Homo sapiens: one gene and its partners. The protein of the gene in region 1 interacts with the protein of each later gene in a pairwise test. Each region holds a gene or a part of one and is shown in the gene's direction. Other genes may lie near its edges.

The links. Proteins that work in one complex are often made in the same cells at the same time.
Region 2: the proteins of PLEKHB1 (region 1) and GLIS2 interact in binary tests that used the Homo sapiens proteins (3 or more experiments, as listed by UniProt).
Region 3: the proteins of PLEKHB1 (region 1) and ZDHHC17 interact in binary tests that used the Homo sapiens proteins (3 or more experiments, as listed by UniProt).

What each region holds. Positions count from the first base shown.
Region 1 is NC_000011.10:73,649,568-73,657,776, forward strand, and holds part of PLEKHB1 (pleckstrin homology domain-containing family B member 1), read left to right. Parts: intron 1-985; coding exon 986-1,138; intron 1,139-2,220; coding exon 2,221-2,323; intron 2,324-3,407; coding exon 3,408-3,447; intron 3,448-6,235; coding exon 6,236-6,340; intron 6,341-8,209.
Region 2 is NC_000016.10:4,332,463-4,340,066, forward strand, and holds the end of GLIS2 (zinc finger protein GLIS2), read left to right. Parts: intron 1-884; coding exon 885-1,057; intron 1,058-2,338; coding exon 2,339-2,515; intron 2,516-2,597; coding exon 2,598-2,731; intron 2,732-2,812; coding exon 2,813-2,931; intron 2,932-4,262; coding exon 4,263-5,062; 3' UTR 5,063-7,133; downstream 7,134-7,604. UniProt on the Homo sapiens protein: Can act either as a transcriptional repressor or as a transcriptional activator, depending on the cell context. Acts as a repressor of the Hedgehog signaling pathway. Represses the Hedgehog-dependent expression of Wnt4.
Region 3 is NC_000012.12:76,808,511-76,816,114, forward strand, and holds part of ZDHHC17 (palmitoyltransferase ZDHHC17), read left to right. Parts: intron 1-532; coding exon 533-610; intron 611-1,202; coding exon 1,203-1,347; intron 1,348-6,635; coding exon 6,636-6,700; intron 6,701-7,346; coding exon 7,347-7,509; intron 7,510-7,604. UniProt on the Homo sapiens protein: Palmitoyltransferase that catalyzes the addition of palmitate onto various protein substrates and is involved in a variety of cellular processes.

The sequences.
Region 1 (8,209 bases):
GTGAAAAATGCCTTTGTGCTTTGGAATCCACAAAGCCCTAAGAAGCTCTCTTATGTCTTTGCCCTTCCCTGTTAAGATTTCCAGTTGCAAAATGTCAGAAGCTCGGTCTCGGGCTTCTAGACCCACCTCTGACCAGAGTCATGACCTGAGCAAGAGCTATCCTGGGGACCCCTGGGACAAGCAGCCCCATGCCCCATACCCCTGCCCATTCTCAGTTCATTTAGTTCAGCAAACACTGAGCCAGGTCTCCCTGGGTGCCAGGACCTGCGTGGGGAGCCATAGCCCCCAGAGTGGTACAGGAGGCAGATGCTACACAAATAACCATCACACAAGTCAGAGATGAGAGATAAGAGGCCGGGCACAGTGGCTCATGCCTGTAATCCCAACACTTTAGGAGGCTGAGTTGGGAGGATTGCTTGAGCCCAGGAGTTTGATACCAGCCTAGACAACATGGTGAGACCCACTGTCTCCAAGAATACCTACCTGGCTAATTAAAAATTAGCCAGGTGCAGTGGTGCGTGCCTGATGTTCCAGCTATTTGGGAGGCTGAGATGGGAGGATCACTTGAGCCCAGGAGGTTAAGGCTGCAGTGAGCCATGCCTGTGCCCCTGCACTCCAGCCTGAGTGACAGAGCAAGACCCTGTCTCAAAGACAGAGAGAGAGAAGATGCAGGCTTAAGGTAGGGAGAGGTCTTTGCCCTTGAAGAGACCTGGGGCTTGGCCTTAGAAGCTTCCAAGTAATGGGCCCAGTCACTCATTTCCCTGTTCAGCACGTGTATCGAGCTTCTGCTATGCATCAGACCCAATGGGAGGCAGGAGGTGAACAAGACAGAAAGAGGTCCTGCCCTCATTTCAGGGGGTAGACAAGAAAAAGGTGGTTGTAACACTAGGGACTGAGGCTGAGGGGACTTGGGAGTCTGTCTGGGGCTTCTATTCCCAGCAGGCTCTGGGATCAGCCTGCCTAGTGCATCTGGAATATCGTACAGGCTCCATCCTCCGCCGCTGGAAGCGGAACTGGTTTGCCCTGTGGCTGGACGGGACCCTGGGATACTACCACGATGAGACAGCGCAGGACGAGGAGGACCGTGTGCTCATCCACTTCAATGTCCGTGACATAAAGATCGGCCCAGAGTGCCATGGTGAGCAGAAGCCCCTTCCTCTGTGGCACCGTGACTGTGGGCAGAGCCTCCCGCTGTCTCCGAGAACACTTGCTGTTGGAAGTCTTTTTGCAGCTTTCAGAGGCATTTCACAGACATTGCTTCTGAGCCTCTGTCAACTCCAATTCAGTTTGGTGTGAGTTAAGAAATAGGTCCTTGGCTGTGTGTGGTGGCGCATGCCTGTAATTTCAGCACTTTGGGTGGCTGAAGCGGGCGGATCACTTGAGGTCAGGAGTTCTAGATCAGCCCGGCCAACATAGCGAGACCCTGTCTCTTAAAAAAAAAAAAATTGGTGAGATGCGGTCACATATGGCTACTGGGGAGGCCGAGGCAGGAGAATTGCTTGAGCCCAGGAATTCAAGGCTGCAGTAAGCTATGATCCCAGTACTTTGAGAGGCATGTAGATTACTTGAGTCTAGAGTTCAAGACCAGCCTGGGCAACATGGCAAAACCCCGTCTCTACCAAAACAAAAACAAACAAAAATTAGCCGGGCATGGTAGTGTGTACCTGTAGTCCCAGCTACTTAAGAGGCTCAGGTGGGAGGATTGCTTGAGCCTGGGAGGCAGAGGTTGCAGTGAGTGTTCATGGCACTGCACTACAGCCTGGGGGACAGAGCTAGACCCTGTCTCAAAAAAAAAAAAAAAAAGAAAAAGAAAAATCAGTCCTTTAGTGCCTTTCTCCTCTGTGCTGTCTCAGAGGTGAGCCAGGCACAGTTCCTGCCCTCCAGGCGCTCGGTACTGGATGAAGACGAAATGAAATTAGGAGGCCCAGAGAAGCGAAGTGGCCCAGAGTCACAGCAAATCTCCACATTCCTCCACCAAGGCCCAGGCCACAGTTCTAACAGGGTAACTGGGAGGTGTGCTGAGGGAAGCCTCAGCATGGAAAGGTTGGAAAGGTTGGAAACGTAGAGTGGAATCCCTCAGAGAGTATATGGGATCAGAGGAGGTTGGCAGTGGCCAGTAAACAGAGCCCAGAGAAGTCAATTCCTATTCCTGTCCCTGCTTTACTGGGGGGACCTGGGGCTTGTGCCTGTGGAAACCCATATATGTGTGTCTGCTTCCAGATGTGCAGCCCCCAGAGGGCCGGAGCCGAGATGGCCTGCTGACTGTGAACCTACGGGAAGGCGGCCGCCTGCACCTCTGTGCGGAGACCAAGGATGATGCCCTGTGAGTCACTCCCAGGAGAGGATGGGGTGGAATCTCGGGGAAAGTTACCATGTGCCCCCTTCTCATTGGGCCTTCTGGTTCTCTGACCGTAGGAAGAGGGCACTAAGGCCAGTCAGCAAGGGAGTCTTATTGGAGGCGGGTGGAGTGGATTTGAAGGGCTTGTGGTGACTGGCATGGCACACAGTGAACTCCTCATGTGGTCTACAGTGAACTCAGGATTGCTGAGGGGGAGGTGTGCACACCTGCCTCAGGTATCTGGTTCCTGGTCTTTAGCGGCCTCTGAGGTGAGCCCTCACCTGAGGGTGATGCAAAGCAGCAGAGCAGCCTAGTGGCACCCTTGCTCCCTTCTTAGAAGATGCCCTGGTGGGGGACTCTGATCTGAGGGGTAGCCCTGGACCTGCCTACAAAGGCAGTCAGCTGCGTCCCAGGCAGGGGCACCCCAATGTCAGATGCATATCCACGTGGCCAGCCTGGGTGTGTCCTTCTCAGGCACCATCTGCTGGCTCACATTCCGTCCCTTCCTACCCTCTGGCTAAGGGGTACATGGCCTTTGCGCTGGAGGAGAGTGAAAGAGATGGGTGTGTGGGAGTGGGGGAAGCTGAGCTCCAGGCAGACAGCACAGAGCCGCCTTGTCCAACCCAGCCAGGTGCCATGGCAACCAACAAAGGCCCCATTGTCCCGTGTCTGCTGGGCCTTCCTGAGGCTCTGGGGTCAGAGCTTTGGGGAAGTGTTTTGTTTGTAGATTTGGGATGTGGAGGGGGACTGGGCTACAACACCCACCCAAGAGTGTCAGAATCTGACATCCCCTGAGAGACCACCCAAGCCCAACCGTCCACTGTATAGATGAGGAAACTGGAACTTCTAGAGGGGACGAGAAGAATGAATTAGCCTAACTTAGTGCTCCATCCATGTGACTGGGGCAGGGGAGGGGTCACTTTTGTCTTCCTGAGGGAGACAAGAGATCTCTCCTTTCATGAGAGACTTGGGCTTGAGGCTGGGTTGGAGAGGAAAGTCTAAAATGTGGGGGCCCAATTCACCCACCCCCAAACTCCCTCCTCATGGTCTGGTGGGATTTGCTTTGCAGAGCATGGAAGACAGCACTGCTGGAGGCAAACTCCACCCCGGTGAGTCTCCCGTTCTCTCCCCCTTTCCCCACCACCTCCATGTGCCATGGAATCATGAGTGACTCAGACTCGGTCTCCACCTGCCAGAAGTTCTCAGTCTTATGTGGATAGGTTTCTGCAAACTCTGATGCCTGAGTCCCAAGTGTTCGGGGAAAGGATAAGGGAGAGCCAACTGGTGCTCAGAGGAGAGAGAGAAGCCTCCATGGAGATTTGCTGGAGGGAGTGGCACATGAGCTGGGGAGAAGGAACTGTCTTTTATCGAGCAACTATTATGTGCCAGGTGTGGTGCAGGTATCATTCCAGCTGCTCCTCACAACAGTCCTGTGAAGTTGGGGTTATTGTTCTCTCTCTGCAGATGATAAGACTGAAGCTCATTCATCCGCACAACAAATATTTACTGAGCTGCTACTATGGGCCAGGTGGTGTGCCAAGTGCCAGGGATCAGAGGTGAACCAAGGAGATATGGGCTCTGCCCACCTGGACTCAGCCTAATGAGAAGCCAGACATGGAACAACTAATTAATTATTCCATTTCAATAGTAATAACAGCTCTGACAGAGATTTGCAGTGTCTGGCCCTTTCATCCAGGTGGTAGTTCAGGCAAGGCTTAAACCGAGGACTGAAGGATAAACAGAAATTGACTGGGTGAAAGGTGTGGGGATCGGGTAAAGGGCACGGCATTCCAGGCAGAGGGATCAGCATGTGCCAAGGCTCTGAGAGAGGTTAAGACATTTGGCAAGTTGAGGAACAGAAGGACAGCTGGGGTGGCTGGTGCTTAGGGAGTGAGTGGGTAAGGAGGGAAGGAGGGTTGGCACGACCAGGTCTTGTGGGCTGTATGAAGGATGTTGGTTTCTGCTAAGAGCACCAGGGAGCCATGACAAGTTTTTGAACAGAGGGATGGCATGATCAGATCAGGTTCAATTTATATTTTTAAAAAGATAATTGTTGTAACGTTGGGGCATGTAAAAAAAAGGGGGTAGTCTGTCAGTTTATGAAATTTTGTTGTAGAAAAAAGGAAAAAAAAAAAGATAGTCTGGCTGGTAGGTAGGGAATGGATTATAGAGGGTAACTGCAGACACCCAGAGGCCACTTAGGAGGCTGGGACAGTGTCCGGGCAACAGACTGGAGATCTGGATTAAGGCCTTGTTGGCCGAGACAGGCTGATGAGTACAGGACATATTTAGGAGATGGAGTCAACAGAGCTTGTGACTGATGGAAGTGGCGGTTTGAAGAGCCGCCCAAAGCCCAGCTTGGCCTCCACCCCCATCTGCCTGACTCCAGAATCTGTGCTTGCTCTTTCTCTGTATGGCACAATGGAGCCCCCTCTCACCTATAGAGAAAGTCCGTTGGGAAGTAGCAGGGGAGACCTGGATGCATTTAGAAACCTCCTCAGGCATCCACGTCCTGAGTGCCAGGCATCATGCTAAGCCCCTGGCAGCAGTGACATCATTTCATCTTCCAACAACCCTGGCAGGGCAGCTGGGTGGGGGTTGGTATTATTAGTCCCATTTTACAGATAAGGAAGCCGAGGTTCAGAGAGGGGAGGTGACTTGTCCAAAGCTTATACTCTTAAGTCAGTGGAAAAGCCTACCATGGAACCTAGGTCAGTGAGATTTTGAGAGGAGGGCGTTATCTGCAGAAGTAGCTGCATGAGCAGAGACAGAGAAGTGATGTGTGCACATGTGTGTGTGCACAAGTGCTTATGCACATATGCATGCGTCTAAGGGCCCAGAGTCTGCCTGGCTGGAGAGCAATTCATGAGGCGAATGAAACAGGAGAGATGACCTCTGAGGTCATCGGGGCCAGCTCATGATGGGCCTCAAAGTCCAGTTGGAAGAAATGGACTTTCCCTGAGGCCTGTAGGGAGCAATAAAGGGCATTCAGCAGCGAGGGCTGTGGTCAGATTTTGGGGAGCAGACTCAGGCTTCCAAGTGGCGGGTGAATTGGAGAAAGCTGGGAGTAAGGAGGCTACAGCAGTAGTCTGCAGGGTGGAGGGACCCAGGTCAGGCTACCCTGGCTCTGAGCTCCAAAGCCTCTTTATGTGGGGCAAGTCAGTTCCACCAAAGAGAGGCGGAGGGAAGGAGGCAAGGGTGACTGTCTGCACTCTGTGACTCTATGAAGCGGCCTCGTCCTTCTCTGCCTGTCCATCTCCTGTGGCTCTGCTGACCCTTCTCTCTGCCCTGGCCTCTATTCTACCTCCCACTACTCCACATATACACGTCCTTCTGTGCCCGGGCTTACTAGAGTCGGGGTGTATTTGTGCCTGTGTCTACCTATCTTTGTGTGTTCACCTCTGTTTATGGGCTTCTCTCTGTAGCCTGTGTGGGAATGACCTGCCCTTTGTCCTCCGACATGCTGGAGTTCATACCTCACTCCAGGTGGAGGCTCCAGGAGCCCCTAACACCAGCTTTACTGGGAACACAGGGCCTGGGGGCACAGCTAGGGACGAGGCTGGGGTGAAGCGGACCAGGTGGGCTAGAGGACAGAAGGGAGTCGCCCTGTCCTCCCTGGAGACTGGGAACCCCAGCAGGATGAAATAGGGGAGGGTGGGCTAATTCTGGAAAGAGACTACTTGTCCTTCTTTTCTGCGTAACTTTGGCAGTCATCAGCATTCTCTGAGCCTCCCCCGTTACCATGAGCTGAGGAGAAAGAGGATGCTCCCTGCCACAGCCCAGCTGGCGGAGGGCTCTGGTAGGGTCTGGAAAGAGCTCTTGAGTCTCTTTAGGTGTAGAGGGCCTCTGACACCCCCTCCCTCCCTCCTCCTTCTTGGGTTTCTGTGGCTTGAGCAGGCCCCAGCTGGAGCCACCGTCCCTCCCAGGAGCCGCCGGGTTTGCTCCAAGGTCAGGTGTGTGACCCGCTCGTGGAGCCCCTGTAAGGTTGAGAGGCGGATCTGGGTAAGTGCTGGCTCGGCCCTCCCTGCCTCCATACTGGCCACCAGGATGAGCCTCCAAAACCAGGCCCAGTCCATCCCTTCCCTGTGACAAACATTCCATGGCTCCCTATCACCCACAGGACACAAACCAGCTGCTCTGCTGTACCCTCTGTCCCCAGCCACACCAGACCTTTTCCCTCTGCCAGCCTTCGCACATGCTGTTCCCTCTGCTGACAAGACCTCAGTTTCCTCATTCACCTGACAAACTGATGCTCATCCTGTAAGGCCCACCTCAAAGGCTGCCTGCCACCTACTCAGTGGGGACTTCCTAGACCACTAGGCATCGTCATTCCCTCCCTCAGCCTAGCGGCACCAAGGCTTAGTGCTTTCTTCATTCTGCCTGGTTTCAGAGCTGGTTTATTCCTGTCTGTGTAGTCTTCCATGAGGCCTAGAACTTCCTCCAAGGCAAGAATGAGGCCTGATTGCGCTGCCTCTATGGAACTTGGCACAAGGCTAGGTAAATGGCACATGCTCAATTAGTGCTCGATGATGGGGAGTCTATGCTGACCTTTCTTACACAGTGGGGCTCAGGGAATGTTCACTGAGTGAGCAAAGGAAGGAAGGAGGGAGTGAAAAACTTCCTTTATAGCAATACTACTACATAGTCTAATTTAGTCTAGGTCTGTCTCCCCTCACCCTCAATGTTTCTTGAAGGCAGGATCTGGCCTGAATCTTTTCTCTGTCCCCAGAACTCAGCACAGGGCCTGGCATGGGGTGGGTGGCAGGAGGGGGCTTGAGTGAGAGTACCTGTGATCTTATAGTCAACTCTGAGCTCATCTTACACAGTGGTGCTCAGTGTGGCTATGTATCAGGATTGTTTAGGAACTTACAAGCACTAATAACAAGTATTCATGTTCCACCTCTGGATGTTTTAATCTGGCATGGGGCCTAGGCCTAGGAAACCTGTAGTTTAAACCTGTCTCCTGGCCAGGCCTGGTGGCTGACACCTATAATCCCAGAACTTTGGGAGGCTGAGGCGGGCAGGTTGCAAGGTCAGGAGTTCAAGACCTGCCTAGCCAACATGGTGAAACCCCATCTCTACTAAAAGTACAAAAATTAGCAAGACATGGTGTAATCTCAGATACTCAGGAGGCTGAGGCAGGAGAATGGCTTGAACTCAGGAGGCGGACGTGGTTGCAGTGAACCAAGATCACCCCACTGCACTCCAGCCTGGGCAACAGAGTAAGACTCCATCTCAAAAAAAAAAATTGTCTCCTGATGACTCTGATGTGCAGAATCACTAAGCCTAGAAGTGCCTGGGCCACCAAATTGTATAGATGTGGCACTGTTAGATCCTCAGTGGCTTGGAGAGGTTACCTAACTTGATCAGGGTCACTCAACTCATCAATGGCAGGTCTGGGACTCCCAGCCCATCGTTCTGAGGTATTTTCCATGCCCAAACTAGGATGCAAGTTTGTTTAAAGTGGGGATGTCAAAAACTAGGATTTAACAGACTGTAAACCTAATAACACAACAGCTCAGCTAAGGGGAGTCATTTGCATGTGACCCCCTGATTGGTCAACACTGGTTGTACCCACAAAGTAGCTGGGCCTCTGGAGAGGGAGAGGCAGGTTCAAACCCTCAGGTTCTGCCCATGGGTCTCTGGGCTGTCCCTATTTGTTGCCAGGTGACTTATAGGAGTTTACTTCTGGGCCTCCCAGACGTGGAGAGTAAAAACAGGTGCCCTCGAGGGATATGGGGTGCTCCACCCTCTCCAGGGCCTCCCAAGGCCACTGGCTCACTGTGTAGCAGCAGGGCAAGGTGGAGGCTGTGGACCTCAACTTCCCCACCAATAAAATTGGACCTGAGAGCTTAGATCCCTCCAACCCCT
Region 2 (7,604 bases), on another chromosome or scaffold:
TGGGCAGGGCAGGGGGACTTAGCCCTGATCCAGTCATGGTGACAGGGAGAATGGCCAAGTGTGTCCACCAGCATGTAGCTGCAGCCCCTCTCGGCTTCCGGTTCATGGGAAGCCCGCACGCTTGTCCTTCCATCCGCCCAGCATCGTATGTCTGCAGGGAGGTGGGAGCTGCAGTGCCCAGCTCACGTGGCTGGCACACGATGCAAACTGAGGCCTCTAGGCAGATCTGGAACAGAGCTGGTCGGGCAACCAGGCATTCAGAAGGAGCGGCAGTAGTCCCAGGACCTGCACCCTAGGCTGTGGGGTGGTGCCGCTGGCCAACCTGGGCAGTAGAGGCTGGGTCTGAGCCCAGGAGGTGCCTCTCAGGGATTCCCGGTGCTTGGGCCCAGGGTGGTGGGCACCACTTCTGCCCTGCCTCCAAGAGCAGAGTCACCCGAAAACCAGATTCACCGCTTGTCTGAAGGGGAAGGCTATGGGAGCAGCCCAGCCCGAACCTGCCACTTTACAGAAGGGAACACTGAGGCAGGAAGGGGCCTGGGAAAAGCTAGAAAGGTTCCTACCTGCCCGTCTGACAGGGACCCAGGGGCCCTGGGTTCGAGTCCTGTTCTGTTATTAACCCTGCGTGCCAGACCATTCCCGTCTGCAAAGCGGGCACTTCCCCCCTCCCCGGCTCACGGGGGCCAAGCTCTGGCGGCTGGTAAAGCTCAGAGGTGGTGGGTGGTGTCACACACCTGTCAGCTCCACAGGCTGCTCCTCACATTCGTGTGGTCTGGGGGCATGGCTGGTGTCTGCTCCCAAGGTCACAGTGGGGGTTCGGAGGCAGGAGTACCTGGCCCACTGGGACTCTACACTCCAGCACACCCTGAACTGTGCCTCTCCCTCAGGCTTCCTGCTGAACTCCAAGTTCCCCGAGAAGGTGGAGGGACGCTTTTCAGCAGCCCCTCTCGTGGACCTCAGCCTGTCACCACCATCTGGGCTGGACTCCCCCAATGGCAGCAGCTCGCTGTCCCCCGAGCGCCAGGGCAACGGGGACCTGCCTCCAGTGCCCAGTGCCTCGGTAAGGAGGGGTGAGAGTTCCGGAGAGAGGGGTGGACTGGTTTCCTGGGGTTGCCATGACAAAGTACCCCAACACTGAGTGGTTTAAAAAACAGATGTGTTACCCCTCATAATTCTGGAGGCTGGAGTCTACCTGGAAGGCTCTAGGGGAGAACCTTCCCTGCCTCTCTCCTGCCTTCTGGCAGCTTCTGGAAATGCCTGGCACTCTAGCCTGGTAGCTGCTTCACTCCAGGCTCTGCCCTGTCTTCACACGGTCTTTGTCCCTCTGTGTCCGAATCTCTCTCTGGTTTCTCTTATAAAGACACCAGTCATGGCCGGGCACGGTGGCTCACACCTGTAACCCCAGCACTTTAGGAGGCTAAAGTGGGAAGATCGCTTGAGCCCAGGAGTTCAAAACTAGCCTGGGCAACATAGCAAGACCCCATCTCTATTTATTTTTTTGAGACAGAGTCTTGCTTCATTGCCCAGGCTGGAGGCCAGTGGCCCGGATCTCAGCTCACTGCAACCTCCGCCTCCCGGGTTCAAGCGATTCTCCTGCCTCAGCCTCCCAAGCTGGGACTACAGGTACACACCATCACACCTGGCTACTTTTGTATTTTTAGTAGAGACAGGGTTTCTCCATGTTGGTCAGGCTGGTCTTGAACTCCTGACCTCAACTGATCCGCCCATCTCGGCCTCCCAAAGTGCTGGGATTACAGGCGTGAGCCACTGTGCCCGGCCTTTTTTTTTTTTTTTTTTAAACAGGGTCTAGCTCTGTCACCCAGGCTGGAGTGCAGTGGCATGATCTCGGCTCACTGCAACCTCTGCCTCCCAGGTTCAAGCAATTCTCCTGCCTCAGCCTCCCAAATAGCTGAGATTACAGGCATGTGCCATCACGCCTGGCTAATTTTTGTATTTTTAGCAGACATGGGGTTTCACCATATTGGCCAGGCTGATCTTGAACTCCTGACGTCAAGTGATCCGCCCACCTCAGCCTCCCAAAGTGCTGAGATTACAGGCGTGAGCCACCGCACCTGGCTATATATTTTTTTTAATTAAGAAAATAAAAATTTAAAACACACCAGTCACTGGGTGTTGGGCCCACCCTAATCTAGTGTGACCTCATGTTAACTTGATTACATCTGCAAAGATCCTAGTTCCAAATAAGGCCACATGCACAGGTAGGGGCTGGGGAGAAGAGGACCTGAATGTCTCTGTTTGGGGACACCATTCAGTCCACTACCGATGGGACGGGGGGCTCTGGGCCAGCAGGACCTTGACTAGCCCTCCCCTCGCACCCCAGGACTTCCAGCCACTGCGCTATTTGGATGGTGTCCCCAGCTCCTTCCAGTTCTTCCTGCCCCTCGGCTCCGGGGGGGCCCTGCACCTGCCTGCCTCCTCCTTCCTTACCCCTCCCAAGGACAAGTGCCTCTCGCCAGACCTGCCCCTGCCCAAGCAGCTGGTGTGTCGCTGGGCCAAGGTGAGTGGGGGCCAGCAAGAGTAGTGTGGAGTCTGGGGCAGGTCACCCCGCATGGGCTCAGAACACTTCCCATCCTCCGCAGTGTAACCAGCTCTTTGAGCTCCTGCAAGACCTGGTGGACCATGTCAACGATTACCATGTCAAGCCCGAGAAGGATGCGGGGTACTGCTGCCACTGGGAGGGCTGCGCCCGCCATGGCCGAGGTTTCAACGCCAGGTGAGGTGGGGGAGAGAGGGGTAGAGGGAGGACTGGGGTCTCCAGTGAGCTGAGCCGTGCCCCCCGCCCTCCCTGGAGCAGGTACAAGATGCTCATCCACATCCGCACACACACCAACGAGAAGCCACACCGCTGTCCGACCTGCAGCAAGAGCTTCTCCCGCCTGGAGAACCTGAAGATCCACAACCGGTCGCACACAGGTAAGAGGCCGGGGCCGGGCGGCTTGGCCCATGAAGGGGGCGCTCAGCTGAGACCGGCTGGGCAGGTCCCCAGGGGGAGGGGACTGTTAAGTAAATCCCGGGCCTCAGAGATAAGGGTTGATGTCATCGCCCAGGGGTCCCTTTTCCAATGCAGTTTGCTAGGGGAAGCATCCCCTGGGGGTCAGACCCCCACCCAGCACCTGCTCTTGGAGCACCAATGCCATTTCCTGGTTCCCGTGGGTATCTTCTGACTAATGCCACCTCTGTGATCGCAGAGGCCAGGTCGGCTTCACTCCTCACTACAGCCCAGGCCCATACCAGGACAGCTCTGGTTGTCAGAGCCACAGACATAATTTTACATTTCCTAATCGCTGCATAAAACACAGCAAAAATAAATGGGTGAAATTAATTGTAATATGGTTCGTTGACCCCGGTACATCCAACGTGTTATCAATTCATTATTAAAGACAAATCAGTGAGATATTGAAGTTCTTCATTTCATGACAAAGCCTCAAGGAGCTGATGTGTATGTTTTTTCCTGGTGTTTATTTCACCCTGGCAGCACATCTCCAGGTGGAGAGCCATGTATCAGGAGGTCAGTCACTACATGTGGCCCCCTGCTCTGGCCAGGGCAGCAGAAGATGCCTGGTGAACCTTCAGCCATTTGTTGAGTGAGGGCAGTAGCGCCCAGGCAGCACTCCCTGTGGCCAGGCCCACGCTGGGCGCCTCGTGCCAGGATGTGATCTCCAAGGCCATGGTGTCTTTTTTTTCTTGAGACAGACTCACTCTGTCACCCAGGCTGGAGTGCAGTGGCATGATCTTGGCCCACTGCAACCTCTGCCTCCCAGGTTCAAGTGATTCTCCTGCCTCAGCCTCTGAGGTAGCTGGGATTACAGGCACCTGCCACCACACCCAGCTAGTTTTCGTAGTTTTAGTAGAGACGGGGTCTCACCATGTTGGCCCTGCTGGTCTGGAACTCCTGGCCTCAAGTGATCTGCCTGCCTTGGCCTCCCAAAGTGCTGAAATTACAGGCGTGAGCCACCGGGCCCGGCCTCCAAGGCCATGTTCTGCTGCTGAAAGGCACATCCTCTGTAGCAGAGGGTGCAGGGCGAGGCTAGGCAGAGCTGGAGTCAACCAGGCTGAGTTTTCAGCCTCTGTGCCCTGCCTGGGGGCAGATCTCATGCCATGTGCTGGGGATGCCCCCTGCCCCCAGAATTGGGGCATCTATGTTCCCAGGGAGTGCTTGGCCCGGGGAAATGTTGAGTGCATGGGGTGAGACCCAGGAAGGGGAGAGACCCCTCATGGCGGCACTGCACTGCACCACCCTGCAGGTGAGAAGCCCTACGTCTGCCCCTACGAGGGCTGCAACAAGCGCTATTCCAACTCCAGTGACCGCTTTAAGCACACGCGCACCCACTATGTGGACAAGCCCTACTACTGCAAGATGCCCGGCTGCCACAAGCGCTACACGGACCCCAGCTCACTGCGCAAGCACATCAAGGCCCATGGCCACTTTGTGTCCCACGAGCAGCAAGAGCTCCTGCAGCTGCGCCCACCCCCCAAGCCGCCACTGCCCGCCCCCGACGGCGGCCCCTATGTCAGTGGGGCCCAGATCATCATCCCCAACCCAGCTGCCCTCTTTGGAGGCCCTGGCCTGCCCGGCTTACCCCTACCCCTGGCCCCCGGCCCCCTTGACCTCAGTGCCCTGGCCTGTGGCAACGGTGGGGGCAGTGGGGGTGGGGGGGGCATGGGCCCTGGGCTGCCAGGCCCCGTCCTGCCTCTCAATCTGGCCAAGAACCCGCTGCTGCCCTCGCCCTTTGGGGCTGGCGGACTGGGCTTGCCTGTGGTCTCCCTCCTTGCTGGCGCAGCTGGTGGCAAGGCCGAGGGGGAGAAGGGGCGTGGGTCGGTGCCCACCAGGGCCCTGGGCATGGAGGGCCACAAGACGCCCCTTGAAAGGACGGAGAGCAGCTGCTCCCGGCCAAGCCCCGATGGACTCCCCCTGCTGCCAGGCACCGTGCTGGACCTGTCCACGGGCGTCAACTCAGCTGCCAGCAGCCCAGAGGCGTTGGCCCCTGGCTGGGTGGTCATCCCGCCGGGCTCGGTGCTGCTCAAACCGGCTGTGGTGAACTGAGCCCATCCTGCGGACAGTTGTGGTGCCCCCCCGGCAGCTCCCGGCACTGCCCCCGACGAACGGAAACTCTTCTGTGAAATAGCAATAATGTCCTACTGCCCGGGCAGCCCCAGCCCAGCCCGCCGGGAGCAAGGATGGTGCTAGGTCATTCATGGCTGGCCTCCCAGCCCCCGGGTGGGGACCTGGCCTGTCATGCAGGGAGAGCTGTGCTCCTGGGTGCTGAAGCCTCGCTCCTGTCTGTCCCCCACCACCTGGCCCTCAGCTTCTGAGAGGCTTTCCCCTGCCCGACCTCCTCCCGTTTCCCTCTCCCACCCTGGCACCTCCCTCACCTAGTGACCACCCATGGCAAGTTGCCCTCTCCCAGCAGAGGGGGTGGGTGGGGTGGCATCTGCCCTCCCTGCTAGCACCAGGCTCCCCCTTCCTGAGAGGAGCCCCCAGGGACCAGAGGCCTGCCCTTCCCTCCTAGGCTTACCCAGCCCCTGCCCTGGGGGCTCCTTGGACCCCTTTCCCTCTGACCCTGCCTCCAGAGGGAAAGCAAGACAGATGCAGGCCCCTGCAAAGCCCCAGGTAGAAGCATGCCCCCCAGGACAAGGCGCCTCCCACTAGTTAGGAGGAGGCCCGCTCTGCAGCCGCCGTCCTCACCCCAGGCCAGGCCTGCAGTACCAGACGGGATAGCTGGCCACTCCACCCCTGCACCCCAGGGTCTCCTCCCTCTACCTTTTGGGGCACCCTGGGAGCGTGGGAAGCAGGTCCGAGGGCCCCTGAGCTGGCAAGGGGAGGTGCCAGGCCAGCTGTGGTGCCAAGATACTGAGTGACCTGGGCCCTGGCTCAGGGAGCATGTGGGGCCAGGCCCAGCGCCCCGTCTTCCTCCTTCTACCCCCGCTGGGCCTGGCCTGGGCAGCGCCCCCTGCAGAGGCCTTTGGGTCCTTGGTCCTGTAACAGGAAGGGGGAGGCTGGCTGGGGACGACCGACCACAGGCTGGGACACAGCTCCTGGTCTGGGGGCTCCAAGTGACAGCATGCAGGGGAGGGGGCTCCCAGTCAGTGCTGTGTTGGGAGCTTTCTGGAGGCTGTGGACTGAAGGCCTTGAGGGAAGCAGTGGCTGGAGGAGGGTGCTGGACCCATGACACGTTGCTTCCTCTGGCTTTTCCCTGCTGGGCCGCTTTCTCAGAGGCACTTCCCCACCCCTAACACCCAGTGGGCCCCCCCAGGTTCTGTGCCACTCAGAGGGACCCTGGCAGGGGCCAGAACCACTTAAGGGTGGTGCTGGAGGGCCTTGTGCCCCAGTCCCATCCCAGGACGCCCTGAGGGATGGACGCAGCCATGCACCCCCCATCTGGGGCCTCTCCCTGCTCCCTCTCCCACCTGGCAGCTGGGAGTTCTGGCTTCTAGGCCTGCCCTGTCACCAGGCCTCTGAGTGGCCAGGCCCTTCCACCTCCCCATCTGTAAAACGAGGCAGCTGCCCGGACAGCCTTGGGGTCCTTAGTGGCCCTGCAGGTCCTCTGGCAGCTCTGCTGACCCCACCCTCTCCCGGACTGCCCTTCTGTCCCAGAGGGGTCACCCTGACCCGGCCCACCTTGCCACTGGGCTTTGGACTCCAGCCCTGACAGGGCCCAGCCACACTGGCTCTGCCCCTCGAAGGGGCTATGAGCAAGGTAGGAGGGAGCTGGTCTCCTTTCTTCGGGCCCCACCCAGGCCCTGAGCACCCCCCACCCCTGTGAGGGCCCCAGGCCTTAAGTCCCTGGCGGGGTCATGGGTTTGCGACTTGAGCAGAGCGGAGGAACAGGGCACTGGAAGGCCGACGAGCTCAGCATGCGACTCGGTGACGGACCAGGCTCGGCAGGGCCGGTGTACTTTTTGTGGTTGTCATTGGTGTGTTGTTGCACATTCCAGGACGTCAGTATTTTAACAGGTTCTAAGTGCCTTTCTATCGTAGCTTATGTTTTCCTCCTCTTGGCTCCATTGCTGTTAGCATAGAGTTTTAAAAAAAGAGATAAGCTAATGACTATAACAATATATTCCTCCATGGGAGAGGAAGTTTATAAAGAAACAATAAAAGTGAGTTGCAAAGATGGCTTGTATGTCGTGGATGTGCCAGGAACCCGGCCCTGACATGAGGCCACCACTGCCCTGAGCCCCTGCAGGCCTGATCCGGGCTTTCTCCCCGACCCTGCAGGTGCCCCTCCCTCTCAATCTGCCGCTTAGAGCAGGAACTGGAAGGTTGGGAAGGAGGTAGGTGCTGAGGGCGCACAGGTGACAGGAACTGAGACAGAAGATTCCAGGCGGAGCATCCCAAGGTCCAAGTCCTCAGCCCACTACTGCCCGCTGCGGCTTTGGAGAGTGGTGGGCAAAGGCCCTTCTCCCCCCAGCCACATTCTGGGGTACTGTGCCCAGATTACTGAGGTGCTAGGTTCAAACCTGCCCCAGGGACAGGGTGGCTGCCGACAAGAGCTCTGGGGCCAGGAGACCGCCACCCCGTGGGAGGGGCAGGGGCGCTATGGGAGGGAGCCTCACCCTGGCACGGGTGCTGTGGAAGCAGGAGC
Region 3 (7,604 bases), on another chromosome or scaffold:
ATTAAGCTTACTAATCTAATACTAAAGTTGCTATTTCCTTTTCAAGCAACATGGCTTTAAAGGCACAAGAAATAACAAGGCATAGTAAAGAACCTTTATGTTATGTGTATATTATTTGATTTAATCTACAGTAATCTTAAGGAAAGTAAGGCTTAAAAAGCTGAGCTACCCAAGGTAGACCATGTCTTGCCTATTCTGCAACTATTCTAATTTCAAGTTTCTATATGCTACTATTCAAATCTTTGTAGTTCCTTGAGTACCTTCTTTTTTACGTGATTTTTTTGGCATTTTTATTCTTTTTTTTTTGTAACTTAAAAATTATTTTTCTTTTCCTTATTCTAGAACAAAAGAGGTATTTGATATAAAATTCTGCTAAATATGTTTTTTAAACAACCACAAAAGATTATTTATTTTCAAAGGTTCAAACTAGCATGAGATCTGAAATAGAAAACATGTATTTACATATTTTTCACAAAATTTCTTAAAATTGAAAATGAAAGTTATTTAAATTATTATAAATTTTGTCTTATAGATACTATATTTCGAAAGGTGCTATTGTGGATCAACTTGGAGGGGACCTGAATTCAACTCCATTGCACTGGGCCACAAGGTTTAAATTTGCTTCTGGATTTTTTTCCTTTGGTTCCTTTATTAGTATATAAATAAACAACTTTAAAAAAATGATATACTAAAATGAATAGGAGAGCTTATTATGCCGTTAGTTAATATCATAAATATGCTGATGTTTTATTGTGAAATATTACCTGTAAAGAAGCAAAAGTTTATTGTCCAAAGTTTCCCTGGCCATGCTGATATTAATTCAGTTAGTTATAAGATTGGATTAAACTTTGGATTTCTAAACGTAATATTTTTGCAGCCTGTATATATTTACAATGAAAGAATTAGCTCATTTCTTGGGATGATTGAGATAATATTAGAATGGACATAATAGAATATAGTAATTATTTACTATATATTTAAATAAGTTATGAGTACTTCCATACATTTTCAGACTGTTAATCTAGTTAAGACTTCTAAGAACCATAAAATCCTAAATGTATTTTGACATGTATCTATTTTAAAATAACTTTTCAAAATACATACGTAATCTTCCCACCATACCTTACTTGAAAAAGCTCTTCCCAGAGGATCCTGTTTGAAATAACTTTATATATCTAAGTGTTTATTCTTTTATGTTTTAGACAAGGCCATCTATCCATGGTTGTGCAACTAATGAAATATGGTGCAGATCCTTCATTAATTGATGGAGAAGGATGTAGCTGTATTCATCTGGCTGCTCAGTTCGGACATACCTCAATTGTTGCTTATCTCATAGCAAAAGGACAGGTAAAAAAAATCTCAGTGGTATGGATTTTAATCAGATGTTCTTCATAGTTTAAATGCCTAATATTATTGGTGTTGTAACAAGCCGTTGATATTTAAATAGCACTTTCTGATGGGTGAAGAACATAAATATAGTGAGTTTGATATGGAGATATTTAATGTACCTAACATAAAAGCCAGCATGAAAATCATGAACCAGATAATGATGAAGTTGGGTTTTTTATTTCTAAGAGTAATGGAGATAAAGCTCAGAAATTAAGAGAGAAAATATAAGTATCTATTTTTTCTTTATGTATTTTGAATATATCATCTGAATTCATCCAAACTTTTTTGAACTTATTTATTGGTTATTTTATATATTAAATATCTCTTGAGAGGGATACATTTTTTAAGATCAGTTTCTGCTGTATAAGATAATGCTGCTTCTTACTTGTCAGAAAAACATCATATTTTAAGTGGTTGTTCCTGATTTTTCTTGAGTGTGCAGTGACCATAATCACATTAAATATTACCAGTTTATATAATCATGTTTTTGTAATAAACGTATTTTGTTAAAAGTAATGTCACCCAGTTTTTCTTTAGTGTGTTTTTTCTGGTTATATTTGAACATTAATTTTATAAGTAAGGATCTCATCACAAGAATAACTTTAAGATATATGTATTTAATTTGTTGCTATCAACATGTATTTATTGTTAATTTAAAATTCTATGCGGATTTAGAATTTGAATACTATTTCTTTTAATGAAGGTTTTACAGTATTTGTTGTTGGCAGTCTCAAGCAGTGGCAGTTGTGTTGTGCATTATAGTTTAGGAAAAGAGGCATAGACTGATAAAGTTAATTGCTGGAAGGGGAGGGGGGGTTATTGTCTGTTACTGTGTTAAAAAACTACTGCCAAAATCTAATGGCTTAAGAACAATACCAACCAATTAATACGTCTCACAATTTTGTGGGCTTGGCTGGATGGTTTTTCTCCTTGGCTGGTGGCTGCAGTTGTCTGGCGGCTTGACTGAGCTGGAAGATTGGCTCACATATCTTGTGACTTGATAGGAATGGCTACAAACTGCTTAACTGGGAGGCTGGGGCAGCGAGGCCTCTTTCTTTCTCTATGTAGTGTCAGAACTTCTACTTTTCAATACCAGTCCATGTGGTCTTTCCAGCAGGAGAACTAGACTTCTTACATATTGGCTTAGAGCTCCCAAAAGAACAAAAGTAGAAGCTGTTTTGCATTTTTAAGTCTTAGGTCTTGAACTGACACAGCAACGTTTTTTCTCCATTCTATCAGTTAAAGTGAGTTAACAAGGGCCATAACCACCCGGAGGGAAGGGACCACACAAGGGTGTGAATACCAAGAGGCCAGGTTTATGGGGGGTCATCTGGAGAGCAACTGCTATAGGAGATTATTCTTGTTATTCTGCAGTTTTTTTCTAGAACAAACGTTGAAGCAGTAAATGGTGCTATAGCACATCACAAGGTCTTTAGTGGCCTTCCATATTGCAGAATAAATCTACAATACACATTCACTTTTTTACTTTCAGTTTTTAACTGGGAAAGAAAGGTGGTGTACATTTTTGAGTCTTCATGGTCTTTTTTTTAACTTATTGATTTTGGAGTTTGGATTATTTCATTAATCTTTTTAACCTCTGGTATAGTATATAGGCTATAAAATTCTCAAAGGGCAGGATTTCTACCTGTCAGTGCTTTTGGTACAAAAAGGGCATGATGATGATAATGATGATGATAAATGTCTGAGAAATAGTTTTTTTTTTCCATGAGTAAATTTTTTTTCTGCACACAAAGATAATAAATGTTTATTATGAAATATTCAGGCATAATAGAATATGACTTAGAAAATGAAATCTCACCTCTCCCCTTGGCCATCTGCTGACTGAGGTTACTTCCTTTAATAATGTAGTATGTATTTTAAGAGATTTTATTCCATGTACAGATTAAGCATCTGTAATCTGAAAATCCGGAATGCTGCGAAATCCAAAACGTTTTGAGTGTCAACATGATGCCACAAGTGGAAAATTTTACCCCTGACACCTTTGCTTTCCAATATAGTTCGTTGTACACACACTTTGTTTCATGTACAAAATTATTTAAAATATTGAATAAAATTGCCTTCAGGCTGTATGTATAAGGTGTATATGAAAGATGAATGAATTCCACATTTAGATTTTGGTCCCATTCTCAAGATTTTATTACATATATGCAAATATTTCAACATAGGAAAAACATACACATATTCAAACACTTCTGGTCCCAAGCATTTTACATAAAGGATACTCAACATGTATACACTAATATATTGTAAAAGACACTCTTCCAATGTGCATTGCATCATACTGTGAGGGCCCAGAGTTTTTCTCTGTGCTAGAGCACTGTGCCGTTTAACCCCTGGATACCTTTGAGCTCCACTTCTGCCATCTCCCCATCATCACTCTGCTTTAACTGCACTAGTTTTTTTTTGCTACTTTTTCAGCAACTCTGACATGCTGTTGTCTAAGGGCCTTTTGGTTGCTGTTTCTTCTGCTGGTATATTCTTTCCTCAGATAGTCACACAGTTTCTCTCTCTCTCTTCAGTCAGATGGTTGCTCAAATTTTATTAGTTCTGATTACATAGTTCCTAATTATAAGCAGTAATAAAATTAGCATATTTTTATTTCTTCTTCCCTTTCTCTTTTATCGACTGTAGTCAATAATATTGTTTTTCTTAATGTTAACTATGTTCTGATAAATTTTTACTACATTTTTATTACTTGATTTTTCAGCTTTAGATAGTTTTCTTTGATTCATGGCTACTATAGATGAGGCTCTCAGCATATTTTCATTTCAACCTTTTTCCATTTTCCCATTTTGTTGTTAATTATATCAATTTTACATTGTCAGGGTATATAACATTTCCATTCAGTTTTGTCATTCTATTCTTCACAATCGTTTTGTTTTAGTTATATTGTTAAATATATTTAGTGCTCACTACCAATTCTTTTGGATGATTTTCAGGAGAAAAAGGGGAAAATGCTAAGTTATGGAGCCCTGTTGATCATGGAATTCCCATAAGCTTTTGATCTGGGCTTGTTAATTCTTCCTAATAGAGAATACCCATACGTCCAGGCTGAACTTGGAAAAGAAGTACCAAGTTTTAAATCCCGACCCAAAGAGAGAAAAGGTTGAATTTCATTTTTCTTTTAGTACTCTAGAGATGTGCCATGATTTTACATTTTTTTATTTATTGATATTTTTAATACTATCATTTTTTAAAAAGGATATGAAAACACAACTAAGAAGAAGGAGAAACTTAAACATAAGAATTTACATGCTTGCTTTAATTAGACCTGAAATTTGGTTGAGGTCCTACGGAAATTAGGAGTAAAAGAAGTCACAATAGTTACTTCTCATATAAGAAATAAGGAAGTTTGTTGTTTCTTCAGAAAACATATTTTTTTTAAGCCACAGGATTATTTTAAAAAATGTACTTGCATATTGGAAATGTTGAGTGAGGTTGCAGAAGATATTCCTGACAACACTATTAAAGTAAATCCAGAAATGGATTTGTAATGGATAAGGCATAACATTCTATGACAGTATGCATGGTGAGTGACTAAGTTAATGACATCCAAGGAAATGCTTTACTTATCTAATGTAGTGGTTCTCAGATTTTTTTTCTTCAATATGCTTAGATAATGTTCACATTTGAGACATATTCCTATTGCTAACAGTGGCTCACAGAGAACTGATGCATAGAGATAGTGTTTTACAGTGTGCTTACTGTAACTCTCTGCTCTCTCCACTGATTGGTGAATTAGGTAACACAACTTGGATTAGAACTGCTTGCTTAATGTAATTCAGGAATGGGAGATGGGGTAGAGAAGAAGAAGAAACTTAATATTTATTGAATATCCATTATGTTCTCAGCTGTTGACTAGATGCTTTGCACACATTATTTAATCTTCACAGAAGTCTTATGAAGTTATTTGTATTTCACATTTTTTAATGAGGAAGCTAAGACTAAGAATTAAAGTAATTTAGCCTACAATCTCATAGCAATTATATGATGGAGCTAGGAAGTCAAAACCATGTCTTATTCTAAAGCCAAGCCTAGAAAAGTAGATAGATAAGCATGTCTTTTCCTTTAATAAATGGTTTTCGATCATCTACTCTGCTGGGCACTGAGAATACGAAGATGGATTTGAGATGATTTTTATTTTCAAAGTACTCCAGGTTAATGAGACACACATTTCAGGCATAGAGGATAATCAGTTCAGAATGGAGTGGGTTAGGAAAGGTAGTTTCAGAGCATTGAAACTGATAAGAGTCCCTGATACATCAGAAAGTCTTGCGCAAGGAGAATTAGATAACTAGGAAAGAGTTTCGGTTTAATAGGTGGAAGTTTTAGTTATAATTTGCTAAAAACTAAGTAGTAGTGGGGGAAAGATGGTGCCAGGGAAAGCAAAAAATTGAGTAGAAGAGGAAAAATAGTGGTTTATTACATGGTTTGGCTGGGAATAGTATTTATGCATATTTATAATAATACATATCAAGTATTAAATGTTTATATGAACCAGAATTACAATAGATCTCTTGAGAGGAAAGAATAGGAAAGGCGTGCATTTGTGATGTAGCAGAGAGGAAAGAGAAAAATTCAGATTTTTTGTACCAAGGAATTTCAGAATAATGCCTGAAACTGAAAAATCAAGAAGTAGCAATTCAAACATCTTATTTAAAGATATGGAGGTAAATATAAAAATAATGAGCCAAAAAATGGTGAAAATGGTGGGAAGTAAGGCAGGGGGATTGCTTTAGTGTGTTGCTTTTTCCACACAAACTGCAGAATCATTTAACTCTAAAAATGTACATGTGTAACAGTAAAAACTGAGTATATTAAAATGTCAGTTCTTTTTATTTTTTGTTTTGAAATGCCTAGGAATAAACAGTTTTGTCGTTCTCTCTTATGCATTAGTATAAACAAGTTTTTCAGAAACTTAATCACTTAACCTATCCTTTGTGGTTGAAAGGTCAGAATAGGTTAAGAATTTTAAATGTGAAACATTGAAAGGCTGATTAAAACATCTTAAAAGGGAATAATGTAAAAGCATGATATATGTTCACTAGAGTATATAGTGACAAGAGTTTCATTTTAAAGTTAAGAAAGAAAGTTTCATACATTATCCTTGATTGAGTAGTATTATATTCGCTTCTCCTTTTATATATAGATTAGATTTTTCCAAGCAAATTTGGTTAGGAACTTATAATTTAACTGTCTGACTTTTTTTCTTTTTACTTTATCAGGATGTAGATATGATGGATCAGAATGGAATGACGCCTTTAATGTGGGCAGCATATAGAACACATAGGTATGTAATGACTATAAAAAACTTATTTAGGCCATTTCAGCATAATACAATATGAAGTAAGAGAGAGGAAAAAGCAGTTAATACTATACTCACTAATATTTACAGTTTTTATTATGACTATAGTATATATAAATTACCATTTTGGATGTTCTGGTATCTCTGTGCTGTCTCTCCCTCACTGATTAGAGCTTCCTTAATCTGTTTCTCTTTTAACAATATCTAAGAAAAGAAGTTATCTTTTTTTAAAAATTAATTAATTTTTTCATGTGATTTACATATTGACAAATTTATTAATTAGTAAGTTGTCTTAGATCACTTTTGGAAGACTCCAAATTTAAATTTTAAAAAGTGTTATTCTTGAATTGTATAAGTATTAATGCCATTTCTAGGTCAAAAATAGAAAATATCAGGACCAAGTTGCTTATCCCCTGAAACTATTAATATATTATTTTATATGGTGTCATACATACTTAATACTTCATATTAGAATATTGTCTCATTATTGATTTTAAAGTTGTTGAGTAGGTTAGAAGTGTTCCAAAATGGAATGCTACTGTAAGCATAATCAGTTTAGTATTTGTAATGATTTCTATAATTGAAATTAGGGTTGTTGTTGTTGTTTGTTTTTTTTTTTTTTCCTTTTCAGTGTGGATCCAACTAGATTGCTTTTAACATTCAATGTTTCAGTTAACCTTGGTGACAAGTATCACAAAAACACTGCTCTGCATTGGGCAGTGCTAGCAGGGAATACCACAGTCATTAGCCTTCTTCTGGAAGCTGGAGCTAATGTTGATGCCCAGAATATCAAGGTAAAAATATTCTATATTGATAATACTGTATGAAATGTGGCTAATATGTGAATTCTGTAATAAAACAAGTTTTTCATAGACTGTCAGAGTTGAAA